Homo sapiens: one gene and its partner. The protein of the gene in region 1 purifies or fractionates together with the protein of each later gene. This does not show direct contact. Each region holds a gene or a part of one and is shown on either strand. Other genes may lie near its edges. The genes, in order: SLITRK4 and CNPY3.

Region 1 (9,390 bases):
TGTACTATAAAGAAGTCTGAGCAAAATGGAAGGTCAGGTTAATTGATATAACCTAATCAAATAATCAACTAGTCTCACATTTTCCAATTCATTTGGTATCCTATTTTATAACAATCCTTTTGTCTTAACTGGAATAAGTCTAGGGATGAACACTACTGCTTTGCTTGGTGTGGTGGTTAATAATGAGCGTCAACTTGATTGGATTAAAGGATGCAAAGTATCGATCCTGGATGTGTCTGTGAGGGTGTTGCCAAAGGAGATTAACATTTGAGTCAGGGGGCTGGGAAAGGCAGACCCACCCTTAATGTGGGTGGGCACCATCTAATCAGCTGCCAGGGAATGTAAAGTAGGCAGGAAAATGTAAAAAGGTGAGACTGGCTTAGCCTCCCAGCCTACATCTTCCTCCCATGCTGGATGCTTCCTGCCCTTGAACATCAGACTCCAAGTTCTTTAGCCTTGCGACTCAGACTGGATTCCTTGCTCCTCAGCTTGCAGACAGCCTAATGGGGGACCTTGCGATCATGTGAGTTAATACTACTTAATAAACTCCCATATATATATATATATATATATATATATATATATATATATATATGTATATATAAAATATATAAGTGTGTGTATATATATATGTGTGTGTGTGTGTGTGTGTGTGTGTGTGTGTATATATATTAGTTCTGTCCCTCTAGAGAACACTGACTAATACACATGGCTTCATTTGGTGATAGTGAAAGTGATTATCCCTAATAAGGAACATTTGAGACATCATCACAGATTCAGAATCAACTCAGGTATGAGAGTTGAAAGAGCAGAATGGATAGAACAAGGCTACTACTGGCAAAAGGTAAAATCAGTTGATTCAAGAGACCTTGTCATGCATAATTGATGTGAACTGTTTTTAATGTCATTTATTTGTTTATTCCTGTGCTGAGTATTCATACTTTAATACTTGAAAACATTTATGTCTCAAGTATTCATCTTTGGAAAATTTATTCTGCTTTCAAATCTATCCCTTTCTCTTTTTTTGAGACAGGGTCACTCTGTCGCTCAGGCTAGAGTGCAGTGGCTTGATGATGGCTCACTGCAGCCTTGACCTCCTAAGCTTGAGCGATCCTCCCACCTCAGCCTCCCTAGTACCTGGGACTACAGGTGCACCCCACGATGCCTGGCTATTTTTTTAAATTTATTTTTTAAAGAGATGGCTTTTCACCTTGCTGCCCAGACTGTTTGTCTTGGCATCCCAATGTGCTGAGAATACAGGCGTTAAGTCACCCTGCCCAGCTTTCAAGTCTATTCTGCTTTCAAAGTTAAAAATTCCCTAATCCCCCTGTGAAAACGAAAATGTGGTGTACTGGAAAAACCTCAAAGATCTGGGGTCAAATCTTGACCATCACTTACTCACCATGTGACCTCGGGCAAACTGTTTACCTTCCCTGAATTTTATTTTATTTTATTTTATTTTATTTTATTTTATTTTATTTTGAGAGAGTCTCAGTCTGTTGGCTGGGCTGCAGCGCAGTGGCATGGCCACAGCTGATGGCAGCCTTGACCTCCTGGGCTCAAGTGATCCTCCCGCCTCAGCCTTCCAAGCAGCTGGGGCTACAAGCATGTGCCACCATGCACCACTGATTTTTGTATTTGTTGTAGAGACGATTTTTCCCATGTTGCCCAGGCTGGTTTTGAAATCCTGGGCTCAAGTGATCTCCCCACCTCAGCCTCCCAAAGTGCTGGGATTACAGGAATGGGCCACCATGCCTGGTCACTTAACCTCATTTTTAAAATAAGTATGATAATCCCTTCCTTGTTCATAGAACTAAATGAAATAATATTTGTAGGCAGCACAGCAAAGAAGAGGCACTCAACAGACAGTAGCTACTATTGAATGGGTTAATTATGATCTGAAAACTTCCTTTCATGTTCTAAATTCCAGAAAATTTGTAAAAATGGGCTATTAGTATGTTTTTCAAATTATATAGATAGAAAAAAGGGTTCCATTGTTAAGTAAGTCTGTGAAATGCCACATGCCATATCCCTTTTCCCTTGGTAAATAAAAGCTCATTTAAACATAATTAATTGTGTTGAAAAATCCCAAAGTAAAAATAAAATGTTTAGCTTTACGGAACCAAGGGTCTTTTAAACTTATTTGATCATGGAAACATTTCTTCCCAGAAGATATATTAACATCCTAAGAACTTTCTTGTATTCCACTTAGAGAAATAGCAAGTGTGTGACCGGACACGGTGGCACACGCCTGTAATCCCAGAACTTTAGGAGGCCGAGATGGGCGGATCACCTGAGGTCAGAAGATTGAGAACAGCCTGGACAACATGGTGAAACTCCATCTCTACTAAAAATACAAAAATTAACCGGGCATGGTGGCACATGCCTGTAATCCCAGCCACTCAGGTGGCTGAGGGAGGAGAATTGCTTGAACCCAGGAGGCAGAGGTTGCAGTGAGCCGAGATCACACTAACGCACTCCAGCCTGGGTGACAGAGTGAGACTCTGTCTCAAAAATAAATAAATAAAAATGAAAGAGAAATAGCAAGTTTGTAACTGTTAAAATGCCAGAATATAAATAAATCTTCAATATTAAAATACACTGAATCATCTGTGATACCTGGATACGAAAATTAAGGCTGATTTGATTTTGAGCAGCAGCCTAAGACAAGGCAAGATAAATGAGGAATACAGTGAAAGTGAAAGACCGCTGACTAGGGCCAAGACTTGGCATTATAATCACTTTCGGTTGGTAGTGTTTTAATGACTTAATTCCAAACTGCCTTCGGAACGGAGGGTATACAGGATCTTGTTGAAATTCTTAGTGCAGTTGTTTTTTTCCCTGATGGAGGGAGACACAGTATATCAGTGTAGACCTACGATTCTGGTTGTACTCCTAAAAAGTCAAGATGAAATAAGGTAAAACATTTGGAGGAAGACCGTGAGAGTATTGCAAAACTCACAATATTTGCATGCTTACATTTTAGGAAGAACATCAATTTTGTTTTTCTTTCAATGGCCATAAATAGTGCTGGAGTTTTCTTAACACTTTTATTTATGTATATATTCACTTCCTTTGTTAAGCTAGCAATTCTGTGTCATTTCCTACTGTTCTATTGGGATGTCACCTGTAGTTCTAGGGGACGGAAAAGGGACTGTGGGACTAAAGGATTGGGTTAATTACTTTGAAAGCAAAATAAGCATAAAACATGGAAGTTGTTACTTCTGTTTTATTTTATGAGTGTCCACTTTATCTTTTTAAGTAGCAAAACATTTTATTTTAAAGCATTCATTTAAAAAAGTTGAATATTAATCACAGATAAGTTCTTAGGAATATTATGAATTGTAATTTATCGATGATCTAGCTACAGTGGCTTTCAGATTTGTCTCCATATCCATATGAAAAATAACATTTCACAGTTATTGCAGTTAAATATAGCCAAGTCTCAGAACAGTTTCTAAAGTTGAATAAAGATAGGCATTTAAATCATCTGATATTTACTGTCCAAATCTGGCCTTTTCAGTTATCACATTACTTAGAATTTTCAGGTAAACTTTTTTTGCTCATTCTATTGACTCTTGTTAACATTTGTAGTAAAAGACAAACATTTCACCTATCTGGATAAAATATATTCAGCTTCCTGAATTGTTAGCATTTAGAATAAATGCCAACTTGTTTTGATACCCATTACTACTTTCAAACTGCATTACACAATAAAATGCAAATGTGAGTTATTAATTAGCAGGATCTGTTTTGTCCAAGTGTGCAAGAGTAGAGGGATTTTTCAACATTCTGCAGCTGTTACCTATGAAGGAAACATCATTCACTTTGCTAAAAGGAGCTGCACAATTACATACGCTGTTATAGACAAATATTTTAGTGTTTCCTTAATGCTATTTCATAATGGATTTCACATTGAATAAGATAAATTTTACCAATGCTGCCCAATTTCTGTCTCTAGGTTGTTTGTAAAAGAGAGGATGATTACAGTTTTCAAGGCAATGTGGAGTGAAGGTAGAGAAAGAGTTCTTCATGAACGACACAATATTTAGCAAGGTCATAAAGAAATATGCCCATACACGCATATCTATTTAAGTATTCATTTACATATTGTACGTGCATCTCTGTATACATGTTGTGCCCGGTGAACATTTGTGTGAATATAACCTGACGGAAGTCCCATAAAATGACAAAAAATGAAAAACAATGAAACATGTATATGAATGACTACTATAGATGATACAGAAGGTAGACCATTATTCACAAATAATGTAATAAATCCTTTGCCCATCAGATGTTTCTACCTAGATTTGGGGCCTTTAAACATCAACCAATTATGGTAAATGTTTAACTGTAGGAGTTCAGGCAGACAGCCAAATTCTGGTTTCAAAGCTGTTGCTAGTTTTAGCTTAAAGATTTTTTTTTTCATTTTTAAGCAAGAACATTTCTGGATACCGGTTGTGCTCTATTGTGGCTAGAGCCGCTGGGATTTGAATAAGTAAATTGGGCAACACACTGGTCCTGAAGAAATGGGCCTGGCAGTATTACCTGAATGTGGCAAATAATAGGCTACCAAGAGTCCTAGGGAAATACTTCCCATTTATAACTTAGCTCTACTTACCTAAAGCTAGTTTATTCCCACAGACACGAAGAGAGAGAGAGTTGTTTTTCTTAGCCAAGCTCCTACAAAAAACAGCAAGGTTGGGGGATGGGAGCACATCCAATGTTTATGCCTTTTGTTTAGGAAAGCCAGGTATCTGAAATACATACATGATAGCCAACTCCTCTCTGCTCCCCTCCCCCAGGTTTATTTATTTTCTTAACAAGCTTATTAACGAAATTATCAATTTGCATGAAACTGGTTTGAACATTGGCCCTTCCTCAGAATATTTCTTATCTCTTGTGGAAGCACTAACAAAAAGGGTAGAAGAAGGGGCCTAGACAATCCACACGTTGGATTTGCAGCCACTGGATATTTCAGATTCAGCTGCTAAAGCCTCTTTGGTATACACAATGAGGGGCGACTGAAGTGACTTTTCTTAGTCCATTTCCTCTCCTTCTCCCCGTCTCCCGAAGGTACTCCGTGGGTCCCTTCCCTTTCTCTCTTCACAGTCCCTCCTGAGCAGTCCCAAAGCTTCAAACCTTGTTCTCCAACCCCCTTTCCCTAATGTCTCCCAACTACCACCCCCTTCCCCAGTCAAACTCCCCTCCCGGTCACCACCAAAGCCCGGAGAAGTGGAATGCACACAATGCCTCCCTTATAGGGCTTGAGCTGGGAACTGGGCATGCTCAGTAGCCAAAGTAGTTTTTTTTTTTTTTTTTCTTTTGGTCGCAAGTGCGGCATCTCTCCCAGTCCCACGCCTCTCTTTCCTCAACCCCTATCCCCTATCCCCTATCCCCACCCCCAGCTCCAAGATCATCCGGCTTAACCCATTCTGCACCAAAGGCCCACGGAGTTCTAAGGTGCGGATAATTAACCCGTCTCCTTCTAACCCGGCTAAATAGTCTCACTTTAGGCTAAAGCCTCACACTTTCGCCTTAAAGCCCCTGGCCCCTTACGCGCAGACAGGTAGGGGGAGTGCGAATACTACTGGATCCTAGGAAATTGGTTCCCAAGAAGGCTCCTTCCAGGATCGACCGCCACGGAGAAGTATTCCAGGAGCCCTCCGTTCTGCGGGGTGACAATTAGCCAAAGGTACCGTACCCGTGATACAAAATCCAAGTATGATTGTTGCATTTGAATGTCATTGTTGTTGACTCATTCCCCTCCATCCTGTAATTATTCAATTCCGCGTAGACTCGACGACCCTATCGATCTCCCTCGGCCCCCCTCCCCCAGGCTCTCCAGTGTTTCTTTGGCTTTTCCTGGCTTCTTGGTTGCTCTCTCAAAGGAATGCCCCGTGTGTGTGTGTGTGTGTGTGTGTGTGTGTGTGTGTGTGTGTGTGTGTTCCTTCGTTATTAGGGGACTGGAAGAGAAGAAAAGGGCTCGAGTGTGTGTGTATGTGGTGGGGGGGATGGAGGCGAGTGCGCCCTTGTTAGAGGACTGGGGTCTCCACGCCTGAGGAAAGGGGTCGCTCCTCCCTAGGGAATGTTTTAGGCAAAAAGAGGGGGCGGATGCCGGGAGGAAAGCGCGCTGTCTTTCTGGGTGTGTGGGTAGAAGAGGAATCAAATGGGCATGTCTGGATGGGGGACGGGGGTAGGAGCTCAGGAATGTGAGGGGGTCAAAGTGGTCGAGTGTCGGGAGGAAGGACTGCTTGTGTGCGGGGTGGGGGGGGGTGGTGGAGAGCGGGGGCGGGGATTCAGCGCGTGTATGTAAAGGTGCAGCCCGTGTGCTAGGCGCTGGGTGCGCGCGCGGTGTCTGCTCGGGTGCGCGCGCGCGCCGCTGCCCGCCTGCCCGCCGGCCCGCCTGCTCGCCTGCTGGGGCTGCTCCGTGGGTTTGACGGGCGAGCGGGCGCGGAGGAGCTCTGTCCGGAATCACATAGATACCATCGTGGAAACAGCAGCGCAGGTCACGGCGCCGCGGGCCCTGCACCAGACGCTGGGCTCTAGAGGTGGGTGAATTTTCAGCGGGGGCTGCACAAGCTGCACCGACACGCGTGCTGCCTCTTCCCCGCTCAGCTCAGTAGCGCGTGTGCGTGCGTGTGTGTGTGTGAGAGAGAGACAGAGAGAGAGAGAGAGATCTCGCGCGCGCGCACGCGAGCCGAGGGGGCAGGTAGCTTATTATTTTTAGTTTGGGTCCTGTTGGTTTGGGGCCGGTTGAGTGGCCAAAGTGGCCGAGGTGGCTAATCCTGCCCTCCACCTCCCACTTGCCTGCCTACGACGCGGTCTCATGCCGCTGAGGACCGGAAAGGATCCGGGTGTCCTTGGCATCGCTGCCCGCCCCCCCCCCCACCATACCCCAAGCGGCCAGGGCGGCGGGGCAAGTTGTACAGGTCTCGGGTGGCTCCGGCTGTCGGGCCGCTGGGCTGGGTTGGGCTTTATTTTTGCACCCCACTCGCAGCCACTTTCCGCAGACGTGGATCTGAGGCTCGGGGCAGTGGCCCGCGGGTTGGTCGGAGATTGCTAGCGCTCGGCAAGACTAGGAATACCAGAGGAAGAGCCGGTGGGTAACTCTAAAAGCTCTGCAAAGCCAGGCGAGCGCTGCCAGCGCGACTTTGCAAGGGGCCTAAATGTTGAGCTGATTTCTGGCATGGTGAGAGCAGGATTTTTGTAGCTGGCCAGGGAGGGAGAACAGGCAAGGGGGAGCCTGGGCCGCCGCTCGCAGCCACAAAACCACAGGGTCACTCTGCCCGTGGCAAGCAGGTCAGTGACTCCCTAGTGCCAACGTCTTCGAGGCGGCCTGATCTGGCCTCTCTTCCTCCTCACCCACCGCACGCCTGGGTCTAGAGAGGTCCACTGAAACTCCGGCAGCTGCCCCTTGTGGGACGGGAGCGCGCGGAGAAATGTGTGAGCGGCGGGACTGAAGGCCCCCGCGACATCCCGCGCGGTACCCCGCCTCCGCTACACGGACCGCCAGGCTGCTGCTTGGGCCCCTGACGCGGAGGGGGCTGAGCGGCCGGCTCCGGGAACAGGGATGCGGCAAAACATTGCGGTACGCGCTAGCAGCCCCTCCAGCCTCCTCGCCGCCCGCCCGAGGTAGCGCACCCGGGCGGCAATGGCCGGGTCTCTCCGCGAACCTCTTCCACCTCCATCCGAGCCTTAGGCGGGCCAGCGGGGTTTCCCGAGGGAGCTCTCGGGGAGCCACCTCGGCCCACCGCCCTGAAGCCCATCAGTGTTCTGCCCCCCTCAGGCCGCTTCTCTCCTCCCAGTCGCGGAGTGCCAGGCGCTGCACTCCGGTGGATGCAGGATTTGTTTTTGGTCGGGCTAGGTTTGTTCAGTCCTGGCTGGTCGTGAGAGCCAAGGGTCTTTCAGGGCACCGAGAGGAAGACGGACAGCTCCCAGCAGCCACAGAGAAGGCTCTTGGTACCCAGCTGGTACTTTGTGGGCTTTTTCTTTTCTTTTTTGCGTTTTTCCCTTGATGTTTAAATGTGCATGTTTCAGTGGTACCACCGGAGTGTGAGGCTTTATTCGCATACATTCAGTGCTCCCTTTACCCTCTTTGTAGCTCCCTTCTCCGAGTTCTTTTTCTTCCTTTCTCCACATTTCCATGGTCTCTTGCCCTTTCAGTACCTCTTTTCCTCTCTCCTTGGTGGACCAACTGGACTCTTTCTCTCTCTTGCCTGCCCCTCCAGCTGCTTGTGGCTTCCTCTGTTTCACAAGAGCTGCATTTGGGAACTTCCTGGCTCTTACTAGTGCCTTTTCCCCCCCTTGCTACTTAAAGTAGCAATCACCAGGAGGAGGGCAGCTCCTTATGCATTTTCAGATGTGTTGAGATTCCTGGTTCTTGTTTTTGTACTGAATTCGGATTATAAGGATTTTTTTTTTTCTGCGTTTGGTTTTTAGTTTGGTTGCTTTTGGGTTTCTTTGTTTTGAGGTGGGTGGGGTGGTGGTTTAGTAACAAGAAATGACTCAACTGAACCAAAATAGCTGTTGAAAACCACATTCATAACAAGGCAAAAAATATCAAGTGAAATTTTGATTTTACAATGAAAGTTGCTTTAGGTGATGTCATAGTTAAGAATTATGACTTCTTTTTGCAATGCCAATCATGCTCTCATGGTGAATAGGGGAAATGCACGTCTATATGGCAGCCAAATAGCATCTCAGCAGTGCTGGCTGTATTCTGAACCAAACTACTTAAAATGCAAATCCTCCTGGGTCATGGCTAATGGGTTGTCTACCTTGAGACATGTTCGGTTTTACCACTAGCTGATTCCTCGTGGGTAAAATAAACAAAGGAGTTTCTGTGCGACACTTCTTTCTTTGCATCATTTCCTTGTTGTGTGTTCCTGGGTATTTTATGTATTTAATTAATATTTGGAGATAACGATATTGAAATTGCACCCAGCTTCCCATTCACAATGGAAAAGACTAATATTGCTAAAATAGTATCAATAAAATGCACTCTGCTTGTGTTGTTTAATCTTTTCCAGGAAGCATCGTGTATGTTTGTGTATATATGCAGTATTTAAGGACCTGAAAACGATGAGTTATTTTGCTAAGCATTAAACTCTACCAACAAGTGATTCTTTATGCGTTTACAGTCAGGGACATGGGGTGGTAATATTAGGAAGGGCGGGTGGGTGTTTGGAACTGATGATTTTAGGACGAAAAATGTGCTGTACTGAACATATTTGGTGCTGTAGCAAAAGCTACTCAAAGATTGTGTTGTGTGAACTCCCCTTCCTCAGCAGTTGCAGTCTGTGGTCAAAGTGAAAGAGATAAAGCAGTTAAGCCGAGGATCAGTCGGACCTGGGTTCAAAATGGTAAATAAAGATGTGGGAGAGGGCC
Region 2 (9,394 bases), on another chromosome or scaffold:
AGGAGTTAGCCGGATGAAGAGAAGTGGAAAGAGAGGGGCCCACTCAGGAAACTACAGAGGCAGAGGCCTGCCGGCTGAGAAGCTAAGAACGAGTTTGAGGAACTGAAAAGCTCCAGATGACTCATCTTGGGGGAAAAAAACCTAAGACTTTCCCCTTTTGCCCTCACTGCAACCCAATCTGTGTAGTTGTCTGTTGCACCCACTAACAACTCCTCGAAGGCAGGAATTTTTGTCTTAGATACGTATTCACACAGTGTCTGGTAGGCACTCAATAAATGTTTTGAGAATACAGATGATTAAATGGGAGACTGTGGGTGTGTGTGAGGAGGAGGATCTGGATCTGAGGAGCCCTTTGGGGGAACAATAGAGCCTATGGGGAACTTGAAAGAAGATTTTAGGACTTTGGAGAAAAGGTGAGTCCCAAAGACATAGGCGTTGAGGAACTACAGAGAGAGAGAGAGAGGGAGCTACCAGCGAGCCAGGACTATAAAGGACCTATTTCTTTTTCCTCAACTCCGTCCCTTAGTTTTCTCCTCAGACCTTACAGTCATGCCTGCCTTCCTAGCCCCGTAACCCCAGGGCCCCCAGAAAGTTGGCTGTGAATCTCTCATCTGAATTGAAAGCCTACATCAGGCCAGATGTTCCCTAAACACTGGAAAGTGGGTTTGGGGTAAGTTTCGGACACATAATCCTTCCATTAGAGAGATTAAAAGGATGCTTTAGAGATAAGCCGACTTCACTGGTAGGGCACCCAGTATGAGTTCAAGCCTGTGCCTTCCCCCGTACATTCTTTTCTTTTTTTCCTTTTTTTTTTTTATGAGACTGTCTGGCTCTGTTGCCCAGGCTGGAGTGCAGTGGCGAGATCTCGGCTTATTGCAACCTCTGCCTCCTAGGTTCAAACGATTTTCCTGTCTCAGCCTCCTGAGTAGCTGGGATTACAGGCGCATGCCACCATGCCCAGCTAATTTTTGTGTTTTTAGTAGAGATGGGATTTCATCATATTGGTCAGGCTGGTCTTGAACTCCTGACCTCAAGTGATCCACCTGCCTTGGGCTCCCACAGTGCTGGGCTTATAGGCGTGAGCCTCTGCTCCTGGCCGCCCTTTCACTTTTCGCTCTTCCTCTAGTCCTGATAGCTTTTTTTTTTTTTTTTGAGATGGAGTTTCGCTCTTATTGCCCAGGCTGGAATGCAGTGGCGCGATCTTGGCTCACCGCAACCTCCAGTGACCCACCCTCCTCGGCCTTACAAAGTATTGGGATTACAGGCATGAGCCACCGTGCCTGGCCTTTTTTTTTTTTTTGAGACGGAGTCTTGCTCTGCCCAGTCTGGAGTGCAGTGGTGCGACCTTGACTCGCTGCAACCTCCGTCCCCCAGGTTCAAGGATTCTTCTACCTCAGCCTCCCGAGTAGGTGGGACTACAGGTGTGTGCCACCACTCCCGGCTATTTTTAGTAGAGACGGGTTTTCACCATGTTGGCCAGGCTGGTCTTGAACTCCTGAACTCGGGTGATCCACCCACCTTAGCCTCCCAAAGTGCTGGGATTACAGGCGTGAGCCACTGCACCCAGCCCAGCTAACTGATAGCCTTTCAGCGTTTCGCTTCCTCTTCTCTTTCTTTTCTGTCTTATTATTATTATTATTATTTTTTTTTGAGACGGAGTCTTGCTCTGTTGCCCAGGCTGGAGTGCAATGGCACAACCTCGGCTCACTGCAACCTCTGCCTCCAGGGTTCAAGTGATTCTCCTGCCTCAACCTCCTGAATAGCTGGGATTACAGGCACCTGCCATCATGCCCGGGTAATTTTTGTATTTTTGTAGAGACTGGGTTTCACCATGTTGGCCAGGTTGGTCTTGAACTCCTGACCTCAGGTGATCCTCCCACCTCAGCCTTCCAAATTGCTGGGATTACAGGCATGAGCCTCCGTGCCCAGCCTGTATTCTGTCTTATTCTGATATCAAAGAGCCCATACTCTCCCTCTTATTATTCTCATAGCCTAAGGAGCTCACATTTATTCTCCTTAGGCAACATTCACAGACTCACGGAAGCATAGAGATGCCCAGGATCTCTATATCTCTATATCTAGAGATCATTCTAGTCTACCCTCATTTGGTAACTGATGAAGATTAATTGAAAAGGGATTTGCAGTCACAGGATGGCTTGGCAAACTCCAACCGTTAGGTTCATCTTAATAGTATATTTGTTTGTATTATTATTACACCTTTGTTATTAAATGCTGACTGTGTCTAGCCCACCAAGCCTGCCTCCTGGCTCAGTAGCCTGAGTGGAACAGGCCTCGGCACAGAGGAAGGAGAACCTGCCCGGAAAAAAAGAGTGGGTGGATGTCAGTGAGGGTCTGGTGTCTGTGCCGTGAATCTCCTGTGAGTCTGGTTCTGGGTGGGATCCGCAGAGGAGGTCTTGAAGAGGTAATGTTTGGAAGAGCTGGAAAGCAAGGCTGTGGTTGATGGGTATGAGAGAGAAAGGATGTTCCAAACCTCCCCTTTCCCCACTCCTGGGGAGGGCGTGGGAGGAGGGGCAAGTGGTGCTAGAAAAATGATGTGCCTGCACAGAGTACAGGACAGAAGAGGGGAGGGAGCCCAGATGGTCCTGGATGGAGAGCTGGGGAGGTGAGACATCCCCAGTTCATTGCAGACTTGAAGATCACCAGCTTATTACTTGGAATTTGTATGTGTTTCAAATTCTCCAAGCCATTGATTAATTTCACCAAGCAGGCCTCCAGGGGATGTATTTATTTTTGTGGTAAATTGGTATTCTAGCAGACTGTGCTGTCAGTGTTAAAACTGCTGATGGCATTTAGCCTTCAGACTGGTATTCCATTCAGAGGCATCAGAAGACGGTCTCTATCAACAAGATTTATCGAGCGTCCAGCATATATCAAGTCCCAGGCTAAGGAAATACGAAAAAATCTAATACATAATGCACATTTTGGGGACCCTTGTGGTCTATGTGGAGAGACACATCAAATGACTGAGGGTCCTTAGGGAGAGCATGGATCCTGCAGAGGCCCAGAGTGAAATCTAGAGCAATTGGCATTAGTGCAGAATGGCTTCCTGGGGGAGAGGCTTATAATGCGAGGTGGGCAGGATGGGCAGAGAAGCCCTTAGAAGGCATTAAGTATTTTCCTAGGGCCTCAGGCACTTCACACCCTCGGTGGTAGCACTGTAGCACTCTATACAGTGGTAGTTATTTGTCTACACCTTTATCTGCTGCATTAGACTGAGTATCTGGAAGGGAGGGGACCTTGTTTTCATCTCTGTATCCCCAGGCTGACACGTAGGAGTTGCCTAATACCTATTTGAGGAAGGGTAAGAGGAAATGAGGAAATAAATGTGCGGAGACAGTAGGAACAAGAGCTCTCTGGAGGGCATGGAGCAAATTAACTTGGTAGAAATAGAGCTGATGTTGGAACACATATGAAATCAAGTAATCTAACAACCATAAAAGATGTTTTGGGGACAATTAAGGAAATTTGAATATGGACTACTGGGTGATGTTGGAATTGTTAATTTTCCAAGTATCATAATTGTTCTATGGTTATGTAGGAGGAGGTCTTTTTTCTCAGGAGATACATGATGATATATTTATCTCAAAAGGTCATGTTTGCCACTTACTTTCAAGATGGTGTAGCAAAAGAAATGTATATATTGTTGAGATATTATAATTATATATTGAAGAGAGAATGTGGCAAACTATTAACAACTGTTGAATACAAGTGGAAGGTATTCATTGTGTTCTTTCAGCTTTTCTGTATGTATGCAATTTTAGAAAGTAAAATGATAGACCCTGGCGTGGTGGCTCACGCCTGTAATCCCAGCACTTTGTGAGGCCGAGGTGGGCGGATCGCTTGAGGTCAGGAGTTCAAGACCAGCCTACCCAACAAGATGAAACCTGTCTCTACTAAAAATACAGAATTAGCCGTGCATGGTGGTGCATGCCTGTAATCCCAGCTACTTGGGAGGCTGAGGCAGGAGAATCGCTTGAACCCAGGAGCTGAGATCTCATCATTGTACTCTAGCCTGGGCAACAAGAGCGAAACTCCATCTCAAAAAAAAAAAAGGAATACGAAGAACAATTGCTTAAGGGCAGGATTTACAGTAAGTACATGCTCTTACACAAGAAACAGTAGATAAAATAGAAATCCTAGAGGCATTCCTGAAACTGGGGTTAATCAGAAGTCAACATGGCACATTAGCATCCAAGATGGAGTTGCTTTAGCCTCCACAGGTTCTAACTCCTTCCCTGCCTTGAGTGCTGATTTTGGTCCTCCAGTCTAGGAAAGGATGCCCACCTGGATCTGTTTTGCTGGGAGCTGGCCTCCCATTAGACTCATGTGCACTCAGTGGGCTGTGCTACCTCCCTCCCCCAGTGTGTAAATATGTTGCTGTGGAGCTGAAGTCAGCCTTTGAGGAAACCGGCAAGACCAAGGAGGTGATTGGCACGGGCTATGGCATCCTGGACCAGAAGGCCTCTGGAGTCAAATACACCAAGTCGTAAGTGAATGGGGACTCACTGGCCTGGCCTGCGTTGCTGCTGGAGGCTTCAGGGGTTTGGAGTTCCCTTCTCCTAGCTAGGCAAACCCCCTACAAGGGCATCATTTGTAACCAAGACCTGAGTTTGCCCACTGATTCTGTCCCCAGCTAATTGGGTGACGTGCATAAATCTCTTAACTTCTTTATGCTTCAGCAGATTTCTCATCTCTAAAAGCAAGACTGTTGGACTATATCATTGATTCTCAGACGCTTGGATTTCACAGAGCAATGCAAGTTTTTTTTTGCGACGGAGTTTCACTCTTGTTGCCCAGGCTGGAGTGCAATGGCATGATCTTTGCTCACTGCAACCTCTGCCTCCCGGGTTCAAGAGATTTTCCTGCCTCAGCCTCCCAAGTAGCTGGGATTACAGGCATGTGCCATCACGCCCAGCTAATTTTCTGTATTTTTTTAGTAGAGATGGAGTTTCACCATGTTGGTTAGGCTGGTCTCGAACTCCTGACCTGAGATGATCCGCCTGCCTCGGCCTCCCAAAGTGCTGGGATTACAGGTGTGAGCCACCACACCCGGCCACAGTGCAATTTTTTAAAACATTAGTAACAGGATTACCAGCTTTTTATTTTGCTAGGTACAAATATAGTTTTTAAAAACCCAATTCTGTCAGCTGTGATCATCCTTTCAAAGAGAATGATATTTTACTATCAAAATTTAATAATTTTGCTTTATCAAAAAATCTAAATACTGAATCATTTAGCTTTATAAAAAATTCCTTCCCTTAGAGCTGTTAAAATTTTGTCTCTCTGGTCTGTGTTCCAGCATTTCAGATCCCCCAGACCAGATGACCTATCTTCCTTCCAGCTCTGAGTCACTTCCCATTGGTGAGATGTGCAGGTGTTGGGGCACAGGGCTGGAGGGACAGACCACTAACCCACTGCGGCTAGGAGGGGAACTCAGTTCCTCATCCTCCTGTCTTGGCAGGGACTTGCGGTTAATCGAAGTCACTGAGACCATTTGCAAGAGGCTCCTGGATTATAGCCTGCACAAGGAGAGGACCGGCAGCAATCGATTTGCCAAGGTTGGATTCGGGATTGTCCTTCATCCGCTCTGGGGTCAGGCCTGCATGTATCTTAGTGTGTCTGCTGGTGTGAGTGTGATTTGAAGATGACCACCTGGGATCTTCCTTCATTGCCTCTTCCCATTCTTTGATTGCCGTTTGTGCTCCTCCCCTCTTGAGTGGCCTCATTTTTCAGGCACATGCATGAGGGTCTGGGCCTGTTCATGAGGGTCCTGCTTCAATCTCAGACACAGGCAGAAATGCTCCACAGTTGCTGCCCCCGTGGGAACCTAAAGACACTAGAACGGGGAGAACTCAGCAAGATCCACGATGTGCAGAAAGGTGGGGGTTTAGGCGAGGTGTCAGAGGACACCTCGGTGGGAGTGACTGCCCAGTCCCATCTCTGGGTCCACACAGCACCTCCCACAACCCCGCTGGGATGCCCTTGTGATGGCCCATGTACTCAGTATGTGTACGAGTGCTTTTCTCTCTGGAGAATGAGCTGCTTACAACAAGGCCCATAGTTCTTACTCTCTACATCTTCAGTGCCTGGCACAGGGTAAGATAGTTGCCACCCACATTTTTCTACCTAAGTTTCCTTCTAGCAAAGGATACCATTCATAAACTCCTGGGATACCTAAGGGAATAGTCTCAAGCAGCAGAAATTTGTATGAATTTTGCACTCAGTAATAAATCTGTGTTTGCTTTAATAAAAAGTGTTTAAGAATTATTTTTCATAGCAGGAAAAAAATGAGAAACAATCTAACTCTACCAATAGGGGATTAAATACGTTGATCCAGCCGTTTGGTGGACTAGTATGCGGCTGGAAACGAAGCATGGGGAGGCTCTTTAGGAACTGAATTCAATTGATTTTCAAGGTTTTTGTGTGTTTGTTTGTTTTGGAGACAGAGTCTCACACTCTGTTGCCCAAGCTGGAGCGCAGTGGTGCGATCTCAGTTCATTGCAACCTCCACCTTCCAGATTGAAGCTATTCTCCCACCTCAGCCTCCTGAGTAGCTGGGATTACAGGCACCGACCACCACGCCCGACTAATTTTTGTGTTTTTTAGTAGAAACGGGGTTTCACCATGCTGGCCAGGGGGTCTCGAACTCCTGACCTCAGGTGATCAGCCCACCTTGGCCTCTCAAAGTGCTGGGATTACAGGCATGAGCCACTGCACCCAGCCCTTCAAGGTATAAGTAAAAAGGGCAAGTGCAAAATAGTGTGTATGCTATACCACTGCTTGTGTAAAAAGGCGGGGGGAGGATATATTTAGATATTGGTATTTGTATGAGTTATCTCTGGGAAAATAGAGGAAATGGATAGTATGTTTTCTCTGGGGATAAGACCTAGGCAGCTAGCAGAGATAGTTTTTACAGAATAAAGGGTCTACCTGCCTCAGCTATGCCTTTTTCCCACTGAGGAAAGACACAACCCAGGAAGAACGGAACAGCAGGTCTGGATGATATGGGAGTGTTTCCAGCCATAGTGAGGGGAAAGAGCTAAGACAAACCTATTTCCTGGAAAAGAAGCATAAAGCCAAAGGGCCTGAGGGCAGCCGCAGGTCTTTTTGAAGCGATGAGGTGTGCAGAGGCAGATCAGGGGGTATATGTGCAGGGGTTGTGGGAAGCAGGCCTAAAAGAGGGAAGAGGAAGGTCAGGTCAAGGATGAGGCCAGGTGCGGTGGCTCACGCCTGTAATCTCAGCACTTTGGGAGGCTGAGGTGAGTGGAAAACTTGATGCTAGGAGTTCGAGACCAGCCTGACCAACATGACAAAACCCCAACTCTACAAAAATTAGCCGGGTATGGTGGCACGCCTTTGTAGTCCCAGCTGCTTGGGAGGCTGAAGCAGGAAAATCGCTTGAACCTGGGAGGCAGAGGTTGCAGTGAGCTGAGACGCTCCAACCTGGGCGACAGAGTGAGACTCCTTCTCAAAAAAAAAAGGATGAGGATCCTTAGAGGGCGTTGAGCATTGGTCTTATAGCTGGGTTCTTAGCCACCACTGGGAGACGAGGGTGGGAGGGAGAGAAGGGAGCTCCGCCTGCCATATCTGGTCGCTTCTTCCAGGGCATGTCAGAGACCTTTGAGACATTACACAACCTGGTACACAAAGGGGTCAAGGTGGTGATGGACATCCCCTATGAGCTGTGGAACGAGACTTCTGCAGAGGTGGCTGACCTCAAGAAGCAGGTACAGGCCCTTCAGCCCTTGGAAGGGTTGCTGTGCCCAGTGAGGGGCTGGTGGGGATTGGGTCTGCTCTGAGGAAGTCCACCCAGGCCGGGGTGGCTTTGGTCAGGTCATTTCACCTCTCTGGCCTCAGTTTCCTTAGGTGAACCGCTGCCACTGCCTACCTTGCAGTGGGTTGCGAGGCTTAGCTGAGCTCCTCTAGGAGCGAGTCAGGTGCTGGGGCTTTGCCAATATGAGGTATTATGATTAACAGTGTGATGTGCTGGTGGAAGAGTTTGAGGAGGTGATCGAGGACTGGTACAGGAACCACCAGGAGGAAGACCTGACTGAATTCCTCTGCGCCAACCACGTGCTGAAGGGAAAAGACACCAGTGAGTTTGGGGAAGCAAGGGCAGGCTGGCTCTGGATGATTTGTTTGCTCTCCCTTGGGGGAGGTGGGTAGGAGGAGAAACAGAGGGCACCAGAGGGCATTGTAGGATCTCTGCCCTTGAAAGGCTTGATTGGCAAGACATGGTGAAGTAAGAGTCACTGAAACCAGGTGCAGAATGATGGGCAGACAAGTCAGATGCCCCCAGAGGGGCCTGGTGGCCACAGCGAGAGGCAGGAGGCAGGGAGGCTGATGTCAAGCACAGTCCCAGTTGCTACTCCCACGGCTCCCTGCTCAGTGCTCCTTGCCCAGCACCCCAGCCCTGAGGCACTTCTGTTGAGGGTCTCTCTCCTCCACACCCTAGGTTGCCTGGCAGAGCAGTGGTCCGGCAAGAAGGGAGACACAGCTGCCCTGGGAGGGAAGAAGTCCAAGAAGAAGAGCAGCAGGGCCAAGGCAGCAGGCGGCAGGAGTAGCAGCAGCAAACAAAGGAAGGAGCTGGGTGGCCTTGAGGGAGACCCCAGCCCCGAGGAGGATGAGGGCATCCAGAAGGCATCCCCTCTCACACACAGCCCCCCTGATGAGCTCTGAGCCCACCCAGCATCCTCTGTCCTGAGACCCCTGATTTTGAAGCTGAGGAGTCAGGGGCATGGCTCTGGCAGGCCGGGATGGCCCCGCAGCCTTCAGCCCCTCCTTGCCTTGGCTGTGCCCTCTTCTGCCAAGGAAAGACACAAGCCCCAGGAAGAACTCAGAGCCGTCATGGGTAGCCCACGCCGTCCTTTCCCCTCCCCAAGTGTTTCTCTCCTGACCCAGGGTTCAGGCAGGCCTTGTGGTTTCAGGACTGCAAGGACTCCAGTGTGAACTCAGGAGGGGCAGGTGTCAGAACTGGGCACCAGGACTGGAGCCCCCTCCGGAGACCAAACTCACCATCCCTCAGTCCTCCCCAACAGGGTACTAGGACTGCAGCCCCCTGTAGCTCCTCTCTGCTTACCCCTCCTGTGGACACCTTGCACTCTGCCTGGCCCTTCCCAGAGCCCAAAGAGTAAAAATGTTCTGGTTCTGATTTCTGAGTCCTCTGCAGCCCTCAGAGGTGCCCTGGAGCCTCTTGTTCTTTCCTGCCCCTCGCCTTCCAGCCCGTGGGGCTGAGGAGGGGAAGGCTAAAACCCACCCACTCTCGGGAGCAGCAAGTGCTGGGAAGGCCCAGGGTTGTCTTGGGGTGAGGGGAGGCATGGGCATAGGATGAGGCCCAGGGCAGTGCACTGACCTTACGCTGCTCCCTCGTGTC

Evidence for each region.
Region 2: the proteins of SLITRK4 (region 1) and CNPY3 purify together in Homo sapiens (affinity purification with mass spectrometry; 2 studies listed by BioGRID and IntAct, with this or other methods). This does not show direct contact.

Annotation. Positions count from the first base shown.
Region 1 is NC_000023.11:143,632,040-143,641,429, reverse strand, and holds the start of SLITRK4 (SLIT and NTRK-like protein 4 precursor), read left to right. Parts: upstream 1-5,328; 5' UTR 5,329-5,695; intron 5,696-6,338; exon of another isoform or gene 6,339-6,551; intron 6,552-6,926; exon of another isoform or gene 6,927-7,302; intron 7,303-7,848; exon of another isoform or gene 7,849-7,973; intron 7,974-9,390.
Region 2 is NC_000006.12:42,930,092-42,939,485, forward strand, and holds the end of CNPY3 (protein canopy homolog 3 isoform 1 precursor), read left to right. Parts: intron 1-4,286; exon of another isoform or gene 4,287-4,383; coding exon 4,384-4,507; intron 4,508-5,320; coding exon of another isoform or gene 5,321-5,382; intron 5,383-5,445; coding exon of another isoform or gene 5,446-5,482; coding exon 5,483-5,579; coding exon of another isoform or gene 5,580-5,663; exon of another isoform or gene 5,664-6,274; intron 6,275-7,625; coding exon 7,626-7,748; intron 7,749-7,998; coding exon 7,999-8,116; intron 8,117-8,476; coding exon 8,477-8,700; 3' UTR 8,701-9,203; downstream 9,204-9,394. UniProt on the Homo sapiens protein: Toll-like receptor (TLR)-specific co-chaperone for HSP90B1. Required for proper TLR folding, except that of TLR3, and hence controls TLR exit from the endoplasmic reticulum. Consequently, required for both innate and adaptive immune responses.